Linked DNA regions of Homo sapiens. The protein of the gene in region 1 interacts with the protein of each later gene in a pairwise test. Each region holds a gene or a part of one and is shown in the gene's direction. Other genes may lie near its edges. The genes, in order: MPHOSPH10 and CTNNA3.

Region 1 (3,277 bases):
ACCCTTAAGAGGGAGCTTGCAGTGAGCCGAGATAGCGCCAGTGCACTCCAGCCTGGGCAACAGAGCAAGGCTCTGTCTCAAAAGAAAAAAAAAAAGAAAAAGAAATACATGCTGTTGGAATGGTTTTGAGACAGAAAACCCTAAAATACCCAGGTCTCTGGGATCCTGAAGCAGTGCTGCCCCTCAGCACTGCCGTCATGCCAGTCCACTTAGGACTTTGGCTGTCACCATATCTAACATTTTAAATAGTCTCCATTAGGTTTGCTGACTTTCAAGCAAGTGAAAAAAAGATAATCTCCATAAAGTATTTTATATATTATACTTTAAGTTAATAGGTTCACAGTTCACACATTTTGTGTTAGAGTCCCTTCTGGCTTCCCATTGAATGTATTATCTCTTTTCTAGCCTGTACCAGAGATTAAAGTTGTGTCAAATCTGCCAGCCATAACCATGGAGGAAGTAGCCCCAGTGAGTGTTAGTGATGCAGCTCTCCTGGCCCCAGAGGAGATCAAGGTAAGAAGCCAATGTTGAAACCTTAAATGTCTGTTACAAGTTAGTTGATCATAGCCAGACTCCATTTATTTGACGTCATTTGCCTTGCACTTGTAGTTCTTATTCCAATGTATCTCAGCAGTTTCTAAGTATAAGCAAACTAGTAATGTTATAATATTCAAATACCAGTCTCCTATATTCTGGCTTTATTATGAGGTACAGGTTTGAGAGTTACTGTAAGAGCAGTTTTAAAATAGCTAGTATCAATATCTTATTATAATCCAATCTGAATACTAGCAGTGATGTTAAGTTGAAAACAAATGGCTTGCATTGCATATATACTAGCAATAGTTTAGTGTCAGCATTTCCCCCTTATTTTATTCATGTAATGCTAATTAGTAATGGAATCTGAATCTAGAATCGAGCATTTGGTTATCAGAAGAGGCTAGATATATCAAATGCAGCAATCCCTGCCATGTGAACATTGAAGCTTATGCCTTACACAGTAATAATGGTTTCTGCCAGGTGCTCATCTTCCTGGCTGGCTTAGCAGCAGGGCCTTCTTTTTCCCTCCTCACTTGATTTGCTACACCTACACTCACCCCTTCTGTCTGAGCCTCTGCCACCTCAGTGCAGGTGACAGCCCTGGCAGGATAGGCTGGCAGCTGAGGAGAAAAGAGATAGAATTGATCCTCACTAGAGAGATGTTTCCCTTCCCTTCCTCTGTTCCTTGGTCTCTGCCCTCTGGCCTCAGTCCAGTTGCTGTCATTAGCAGCTCAGAGCTGAGGCTGCCTCTGGCATGTCCCTGAAGCCCATTGGAATCTAAATGCTGTGGAGGGCTGGCTCCTCTTGTGCTGTTAGGTTGAGAACCCAACTCTCCATGTTGCCTTCTTGTGAATTAGTTTGGGAACTGAACCGTCACTATAAGAGTCTGTGCCTGTCAAAGAATGCATTTCAGGTTTTAAAGAGCTGAGTTACCAACGCTCATTGGAATGCAGGTGGGGATTGCTCTGCATCTTTGTGCATTTGGCCACAGATGCACAGCCTGCTTGCTGGCTACCCTGCAGTTTCTTCCATTCCAGTTTCCTAGTTGTTAAACTTGATGAATGAATATGTTGGTGGTTATTTTTTTAATAGGAGAAAAATAAAGCTGGAGATATAAAAACAGCTGCTGAAAAAACAGCTACAGACAAGAAACGAGAGCGAAGGAAAAAGAAATATCAAAAGCGTATGAAAATAAAAGAGAAGGAGAAGCGGAGAAAACTGCTTGAAAAGAGCAGTGTAGATCAAGCAGGGAAATACAGCAAAACAGTAGCTTCGGAGAAGTTAAAACAGCTGACCAAAACTGGCAAAGCTTCCTTCATAAAGGTAAGGACAAGGGAAAGAAAACTGCTCAAGGGGACCTTTGTGGGGGAAGTGGATAGCAAGTGCTGGGTGACTGGAATGTCTGAGCCAGCTGACAGCCCACCTGCGGGATAGAGATGCATGATGCTGACTGGCTGGAATCGCAACCTTTAATGTTCTAGAATTTTTCATGTAGGGTCCTCACAATAACCTGGGTCCTGGCAGCAGCTTGTCTTCCACTCCTTTCTCTCTTAGATTATAAGAACATTGTAGCAGTGCAGAATACCTCTATGCTAACTGATTCAGTTTTCTGTAATTCTAGTCCTTTTTCATATTTATGGTTGCATACATTGTTGTAATGGTGATGTACTATTTTTGGCTTTTTTCACTTATAAGTACATTTTACAGCATAAGCATGTGGTGTTTTTAATTGCAGGATGAAGGTAAAGACAAGGCCTTAAAGTCCTCTCAAGCATTCTTTTCTAAATTACAAGATCAAGTAAAAATGCAAATCAATGATGCAAAGAAAACAGAAAAGAAAAAGAAGAAAAGACAGGATATTTCTGTTCATAAATTAAAGCTGTAATATATTTTGAATATAATGTAAATATTAATGTGTAAGCTTATATTGTGTCATTGTTCTGTTTTATAATAAAATTCTTGAGAACCTTCCTTTGCATCGATGACAGATATTTGAGGGTTCCATAGTGTGAAAAGACAAACCCCTAACCATTTGCAAAGCCCTTCCGGTTTTCACTGGTATGAAGCAGGACCTGGCTCCTCCCCAGGCCCTTCCTGTTCAGGCACTGCCTGAGCTGATCCTGCTGTGCTCTTGCCGTGGCCCAGGCCTGTGTGAAGGCCAGGCCAGCTTGTCCACATGGGCTGGTGAGCAAGCACTGGCCTGCAGGCTGTGAAGAGGACAGAGCCAGCCAACCCCCTCACAAGCAGCTGTCTACAGCAGAGGTCCTCACTCTTTGGGCTCTTGATTTCCTTCTCCCATTGCCCTGTCATTTCATAAAACAGTAGCATTTTCATGCCTGTGCCTTCCTTCCCCTTTGGGAAATGATCTCATGTCATCTGAACAAAGGTTTAATGTAGGCTGTAGAGCACTATCCACAATCAGCTGCAGAGGACAGGTATGATGGAGAAGTGAATCTAGAAGCAACAGAAGCTCCATACAGCCAGTAATGTAAACTGCAGTCTGCAGAGTGTTCTGTGACCACCAGGTGCTCATTGTTTCAACCTCCCCATCCAGGGAAAAATGCCTTTTGTCTGATAGGCTCTCATACTGATTTGATGGAAATGCAGTAAGCCTTAGTCCAGATGGGTAGAGAATGTGGACTAAGATTCCACCAAAGCAACAGGTGAAGCCCTTCTGGTTTTTTTGTCTACAAGGGGTCAATCAGTGGTCCAGAAGAGCCTGTGGAAGTTTGCACTCTGC
Region 2 (7,309 bases), on another chromosome or scaffold:
GGTAGCAACATGCATTACAAAAATAAGAGCAAGCTTCTTAAAAGCAGAGTTGCTGGCTAGTCAACTTTAAAATTTTAGACACTCTGTTAAGGTTAGTATAATTTATTTAACTATTTGATATCGAAAAATAATCACATATTGGAAGTAGGATATTCTTGGAGGCAGGTTTATGTAATGAGAAAAAACGCAAGGTAGAACCAGACTTACTTGGTTCCAGTTCCAGCCCTACTATCTAATATCTGTGTTACTTTGAGCAAGTCACCAGACCTTCCAGTTCCTTTGTTTCTTCATCCATAAAATGAAGATAATAAGAGTACTTACCTCATAGGGTTGCTATGAGTTACTTTATGTCAACTGCATACTACAGCATATAATAGATATTAGCAATTATTTTAAGCTCTTCTGACACTTGGAACCAAACTCTTGACATTTGTCTTTCAAAAATTGCTTTTGTGCAGGACCAACATCCAACAGGGGTCTTTGAATTCAGGTACACCTTGAGACTCAAGATCATAGGCTACATTTGGTACCAATTTACCAAAAAGGTTACTGGACAGACCATATATCTTTCCAAGCAGCATCAGGTTTTTCTCTCAGCAGGAGTCTCAGAAGAAGCAGTTGGCATGGCAGTTCACACTGCCCTGTGATTGGGAAGCTGCTTTCCCAGGTGACAGACCAGGTGCAAGAAAGTGAGATCCACACCAGTGGAAGTGAGGTTCACGTAGGCTTAGAATCCTCATGTAAGGCGTATGTCTGGTAACAGTCTTGAATCCAAACTATAGGGAGTTAGACTAGTGTCCTACGAGTAGAAAGCATTCTAGTGTTTTGACACAATCTCTGTGAGAAACTTCCAAAAGCAAGAGAAGGAATATGTACCATGTCTTTTTGAATATTCCTCTTAGCTATCACTAATTACAATAGGGTTTTGGCAAGGGTTTGCTAGCAGACATTCCAAATTGACATAGTTGTCAAGGATTTATAGGTATTTAGTGTTTTTGAGAAAAGATCCAGGTATTCTATACAAACTACTTACATGGACGAAATGTTAACATTTTATGAGGAAACAGAAAATGTATTTTATTGTTGCTAAACTCCACCTTTTTGTAGTAAATGGCTATTGATATGTTTTTAAGAGCAAGTCCTTTATCCGTAAACATTTGTAGAATTGGTCCAATTTGTACCGTTGTTAAACTGAAACCATATAATACCACAAAGCACAGAAGAGACACTATAATAAAAGTAAGATTTATACAGGATAATATTTAACAGGATTCTATTTAAATTGGCGTATTAGGGTTATTTGCAAAACACATTACATAATTAGCATAAGAGTTAATTGAACATAATCACTTATCCATCTAGATACAAAAAAATGAGGCAGAACTTATTGATTTATGTTTGGGCATAGACAATATTGAGCAGCTTATTGTGACATTAATAGACTATCAGGCTCAGTTATTTTTATTTTTATTATTTATTTATTTTTTTATATGGGGTTTCACTGTCACCCAGGCTGCGGTGCAGTGACGCCATCTTGGCTCACTGCAACCTTTGCCTCCTGGGCTCAAGTGATCCTCCCTCCTCAGCCTCCTGAGTAGCTGGGGCAACGGGCACATGCCACCATGCCCACGCTTGGCAATAATTAACAAAACCTCCTGGAATAATAGCTCTTTTTTCTCTTTTTTCCCTACAGTTGGACAGTGTCACATCCCTGATCCAAGCAGCCAAAAATTTAATGAATGCTGTAGTGCAAACAGTGAAAATGTCTTACATTGCCTCAACCAAGATCATCCGAATCCAGAGTCCTGCTGGGCCCCGGCACCCAGTTGTGATGTGGAGAATGAAGGCTCCTGCAAAAAAACCCTTGATTAAAAGAGAGAAGCCAGAGGAAACGTGTGCAGCTGTCAGACGAGGCTCAGCAAAGAAAAAAATCCATCCATTGCAAGTCATGAGTGAATTTAGAGGAAGACAAATCTACTGAAACCACTATTCTACATATAGTGCCTATATGACAAAATCCTGCCTAACCACACTGCTTTATTTTACACTTAAGAAGTTCTGTAATTTCACTAAGTTTTGGTGTTTAACTCACAAATAACATAAAATATTGGGCGCTAAATCAACAAAAGCAATATATATTTGGGATCATATCACTGTCATTTCTGTATGGTCAGCACCTAATAGTTAAGGAATATTTGCTTGTTGAATGAATGAAATTATCACGTGTCATTCAGCGTTTCCCATCATAGAGATTATCTACTATTCGTTACCAAATAAACACAGGAGAGGCCAGAGAGTCCTGTTTATCTGTAATACTTCATGTACACTTATCATCCTTATCTTGAATTAAAACACTAACATGAGCTCCTAACTTGGTTTTTTAATAGAAACAAAAGACTTTTATAAAATATTTTCCCATTTAATCTCCATGCTTTCTTTATCTGATCTAACCTGGCACCTAACCAGGCAGAAATGTATGATTCCTGCCATAGCAAAAAAACCACCTTTTAATCTCTAGATAGCTGTACTCATTGTCAACTTATTAGGCTAATATCCATTATAAACTAATCAAATTTGAATAGTTAGGCTACTTGCTGGATTTTGAAGGTCAACCTTGTTTATTAATAAAATGCTTTCTTAACATTATAAAGGTTACAATGAGTTCTGATGCCACATACTCACCTTTTGGGTTTCCAATGTGTTAGAGAGTTCTGTACTTTTGAGTGTTAGGCCTATCCGAATACATATGTGAAAGAAGAGTTATCACCCATTGGGAAAATGAGACAACAAACTATATCCCAAAGTGAGTTATATTAATAATAACAGAAGTGTAAGTTCTGTATGACCCTATTTTTACAAACATAAAAATACATTTTTATCAGCTTGCAATTGTAATTAAAAGGAAAATGGCAGTTTGAAAAATCTTTTGACGTTGAGTAAAATATAACTGCATGAACTGTACCATTGAACTATGAAGCAGTTAATGGCAATGAAGCTGGAGTGATTTTAATAACGTTCTTTTAAATAAAAGTCACTGGGGTCATTTTACAACTCCAGTCACTGTGTTCATTCCTAGTTGAGTTCATAATGGACTTCATAATAGTCTTAGAGTCTAGTGTACCTCTCTCTGTCATTCTCTCTCTCTTTTTCTCTCCCCTGATGACCTGCCTCTCTCTGTCTTTCAAAAATGTCCTTAACAGAAACTCTTTGGAGGCCATAAGTTTTGTTTTCATTTTTTCTCATTCATAGAGTTCTGATTCACAGACTTTAAAAAACATTTTCTATTCTACATTATCATAATAGTATTATATTGTACCTTTTTACTTCTAAAACATTGCCATTGATGAGAGGCGTCTCAGCAACGATGTAACCTTAGATTGATGAGAAAAAAATTTACACATACAATACCAGTTGATATTAGGAGAACCAGTTTGGGTAAAAGGATGCATGAAACATAGAAAAGCATAAAGATTGACAGTACGATATGTGTGGAATCTTAAGCATAATGGTATGGGAAAAGAAGGATCTATTTAATAGGTCATTATTAATTATGCAGGAAATGTTAAATTTCTTGTAATGAATTATTTCAATCTTCCAAGTAGCTGGATTGCCTGAGCTCAGTGTAAAACTTCCTAGGAGGTGAAGGCAATAAACTCCTCCCTGTTTTGCACCATAGACTGGCCTACAATAACTATTCTGAACAGAATGCACTGCCCAGAAGAAAAGGCAGTGAAGAAGGGAATTAGGGAATTCAGATGACTCTGTTTTTCAGAATTATCTAGATGATTGAGGCAAATAGAGATTTTCTTTTATTGAAATGCTGCCATCATTTTCTGCTCTAAGTGTAGATGTTGCACGAGTGACATCTGTGGTATATCCTTCTTCCAGATAGAAGTATAAATTTATAATTTAGTGGGGAGAGGAATTTTCTTTTAATCACCAAACTACCAGCTGTATAGAAAATTTTTTTGAAATCACCAAACTAGCAGTTGTGTATCTTAGCTCCTAAAGCCACATTCACAAGAATCATAAGCATCTCATTTAGAAAATCTAATGTCCACCGGACCCAACATCATCTTTCCACATGTTGGAGTTTAGAACATGCAGTATTGGACACCAAAAGAACAGAAATAACTTGAAATTATACAATTACCAAATAACCTCCATCTCTTTGATAAAAATGACTTTTTACCCAAAGTGAGATGTGAACAAGTTCTCCTCTTTAACCCAGGCAGATTTTCAGCTTAGCTCAAAGCAAACTATAATTAAATAAAACAATAAAAATTTTAACTCAATGAATATCCTAGGAGTTAATCTGCTGTGGTAATCGATAGTGACATAAAAACAAGATGCATAGAGCTGAAAAAGGCATCTGTCCACCTGAGTGAATTCCTGTAGTAGGCAGCATTTCAAGATTTAGTTTGATTCAAACCTGCTGATAAAACAAATGCTTATATGCAAGAAAAACTAGCAGCAAGATATGAATAAATCTCCCCATTATGTTAAAAACTAATCAGCATGACACATTTATATTTAGGTATTTCTTCTGCAGAGGATTGCCAGAAATTTCTTAATGAGAGTGATAATTTGGTGATCCACCTATGTACCTTTTGATGTCTCATCACAGAGATTAGTGCTTCCTCTGATAATACATTTGCTTGATCCTGCTAATAAGAACTCACCTTTCTTTTTAACGAAATCAATTTGTGTTAATTTACATAGGGAAAAACGTTCCTTGAGAGGGAGGAGAGGGGTGTTTACCACCCACAGGAGCAGTTCCATCCCTGGTTACCCACCAGTATCCCTGCCAGATGTTAGACTGGAATTAGAATGAAAATTTAAAAAAAAACGAAATAATAATCCACTAAATGGCCTTCTAATTAGAGAAATTTGAAGATTTCTATCAAATATAAAAAGTGAGAAATAGAAATCATTCCCTTTAATTTATGACAAATTAAAATTATTGAAGTAAAATGTTTCTAAGTCAGTTTCTGGATAGTTCTTGAATGAGTCAAGAAAAAACTCAAACACTAAATTTCTAAGCTAATTTGTTCATTATTCCTTTCTGTTTATTATTTATTATATGAGTGCAAATTGCAAATGTATTAGAAAAGACAATATAGCCTTCACATTCACAAGTGTGCCTTCTGGCCTTTGAAATCTTTTAACATAAGATCAATATAACATATTTGTTCCCCATAAAAATCTCTTATGTACAGGGAATAAGGTCCTCCATAGCTACACAGAGACACCCATTCTTGCAGTCTGGCATTCTTAACACCTTTAGCTTCAAAGGCAGTCGGTTTCAATTTCAAGCTAAAATTGTGAATATACAATTAAGTGCGCAACTTGGGCCTTCAGACCAAATAATTAATGCTCCTCAAATTAAATAATGAGTGGCTGAAAAGCCTAATGTGTAACAACAGAGTAAGTGACTTCAACGGCTTCCTGAACCTTCATTTTGAGGGTGTTCTCATCTCACCCACCTCTGGGCTAGGTATCCTCTGTTAATTGCTAACAATTTCCTACCAAAATAGTGCAATCAGGACTGCCCATCACAGCAAATTACTCCAATTAATGCCCTTTCCTCTTCTGTGAACCAAAAATATCTCTCTCCTGTCTCTCATCTCTATCCCAGGTATAAATTGACTAATAAATTTTACAGAGTTTTAGTCAAAATTATGAATTTTAATTTCCAGCAACATTATTCCTTTAGTCTTTCTATTCCCCAAAACATTCTTAAATTTTGGTATCAAATGTTCATTTCTGTCCTAGAGATTGTGGTTCCCATGGCTACAGATTTTTGTATAGTGGTAGTATGAGTGGAATAAGATCTGAGACTTTTCCTGGTGATATCCACCATTCTCTTGTGAACTCATTGCAGAATAAACAGCCTCTTTCACTTTCATTGTAAGTAGTTCTTTAGGTTGGCAAAGCAGGCACCAGAATCTGAATTTGAATGAAATCTGTACTTTCTTTTGTTGGCCTATTTTTTGCCAAGACAGCCTGCCTATTGTATATTTAGGAATCAAATATTCATTTTTTCTGTTTGTAAAGCCAGAAATATTTCAGTTAAAAAGAATATAATTTTATATTATTTTAATAATTCTTTTTAAGTAAAGTAGGAAAATTTCTGCCACCTGAGATGTTACTGTTTTTATTTATATGAAAATTCCATTTTTTTCTTTATGACTCTTTTCCCATACCATTATGATATGTTCAGCATTAGTATTTTCCATTTTACCACTAAACAAATAAGCCAGGACTAATAACAATAGCAGTTTGAGAGTTTTTATTTTGGCATTTTGGTTTTAATTAGGAAAGAAAACATGGATGCTATTAAAACTAGTTGTAGTTAAAAATGTTTTGAATGAGGCTACTAACGCTATCTTAGTCATCTCAAAGAGAAAGAGAAGAAGTAAAATTTTAAATACCTTTTTGGCATTTTTAACCAATTCATATGAACAAAAACATATATTCTATTAAAGCAAAATAAAGAATAGTTTAAAACACTAGTCTTCTTGCATGTGAATATTTTCCCCCTAACAGACAAGATAGAATCCATTTCTGGACACTCTAAAAGAAAGTAATGTTAATTGAGAGAGCTGTCTCCAAATGGAACTCAACCTGACCAGAATCCCATCCGCAGGCAAGAGATGGGCTGTGGGGCCGACCATAAGTTTTATTCTGAGACGAGATGCTTTATGGCTGCTGGCTGCATTATGGCATCTAGCAGTCCCCACTGGTTTGTGGGAACAAAACACATGGATTGATATTCAATATGAGTTTGGTAAGTTGGAGAAAAATGGAGACGATACGGAGTAGTCTAAAGGCACAACAAATAAGAAGGTGCCAGAGGTAGGGAAGGGTCTGAGAGGGGTAGTTGCAGAAGCATTTAGCTTTCATAGATGAGGGGAGAGTTTTTTGGTTTTATGAAGATTAGGCAGCCCTCCTGAGGAAAGTATTAAGGATAGAATGAGACACTTGTCTTGGTGGTTTGGTGAAGTCGTGTCGAAGGCAAAAGGATGAACTACACATATTTTGAGCATGATTTAGTAATATTGTTTGCAAGTTGAGAAACAGAAATTCAGCCATTCTCCTGACTGATGGTAGGTGAAATTCTTCCCAATATTAGAGCCAATCTGGGTTACCATACGTTCATATATTTAACAGCTATTTGTTAAACAACTGTGATGTTCCAGGCACTGTTCTAGGTTCTTAGGATACACCATATAACAAAACAAATAGTGATCCTTGCCCTCATGTGCCAGCTCTGTGTTAAATGCTAACTATTATCTTATTCAATCCT

What was found.
Region 2: the proteins of MPHOSPH10 (region 1) and CTNNA3 interact in binary tests that used the Homo sapiens proteins (3 or more experiments, as listed by UniProt).

What each region holds. Positions count from the first base shown.
Region 1 is NC_000002.12:71,147,594-71,150,870, forward strand, and holds the end of MPHOSPH10 (U3 small nucleolar ribonucleoprotein protein MPP10), read left to right. Parts: intron 1-405; coding exon 406-513; intron 514-1,629; coding exon 1,630-1,860; intron 1,861-2,272; coding exon 2,273-2,422; 3' UTR 2,423-2,508; downstream 2,509-3,277. UniProt on the Homo sapiens protein: Component of the 60-80S U3 small nucleolar ribonucleoprotein (U3 snoRNP). Required for the early cleavages during pre-18S ribosomal RNA processing. Part of the small subunit (SSU) processome, first precursor of the small eukaryotic ribosomal subunit.
Region 2 is NC_000010.11:65,915,002-65,922,310, reverse strand, and holds part of CTNNA3 (catenin alpha-3), read left to right. Parts: intron 1-1,693; coding exon 1,694-1,981; 3' UTR 1,982-7,309. UniProt on the Homo sapiens protein: May be involved in formation of stretch-resistant cell-cell adhesion complexes.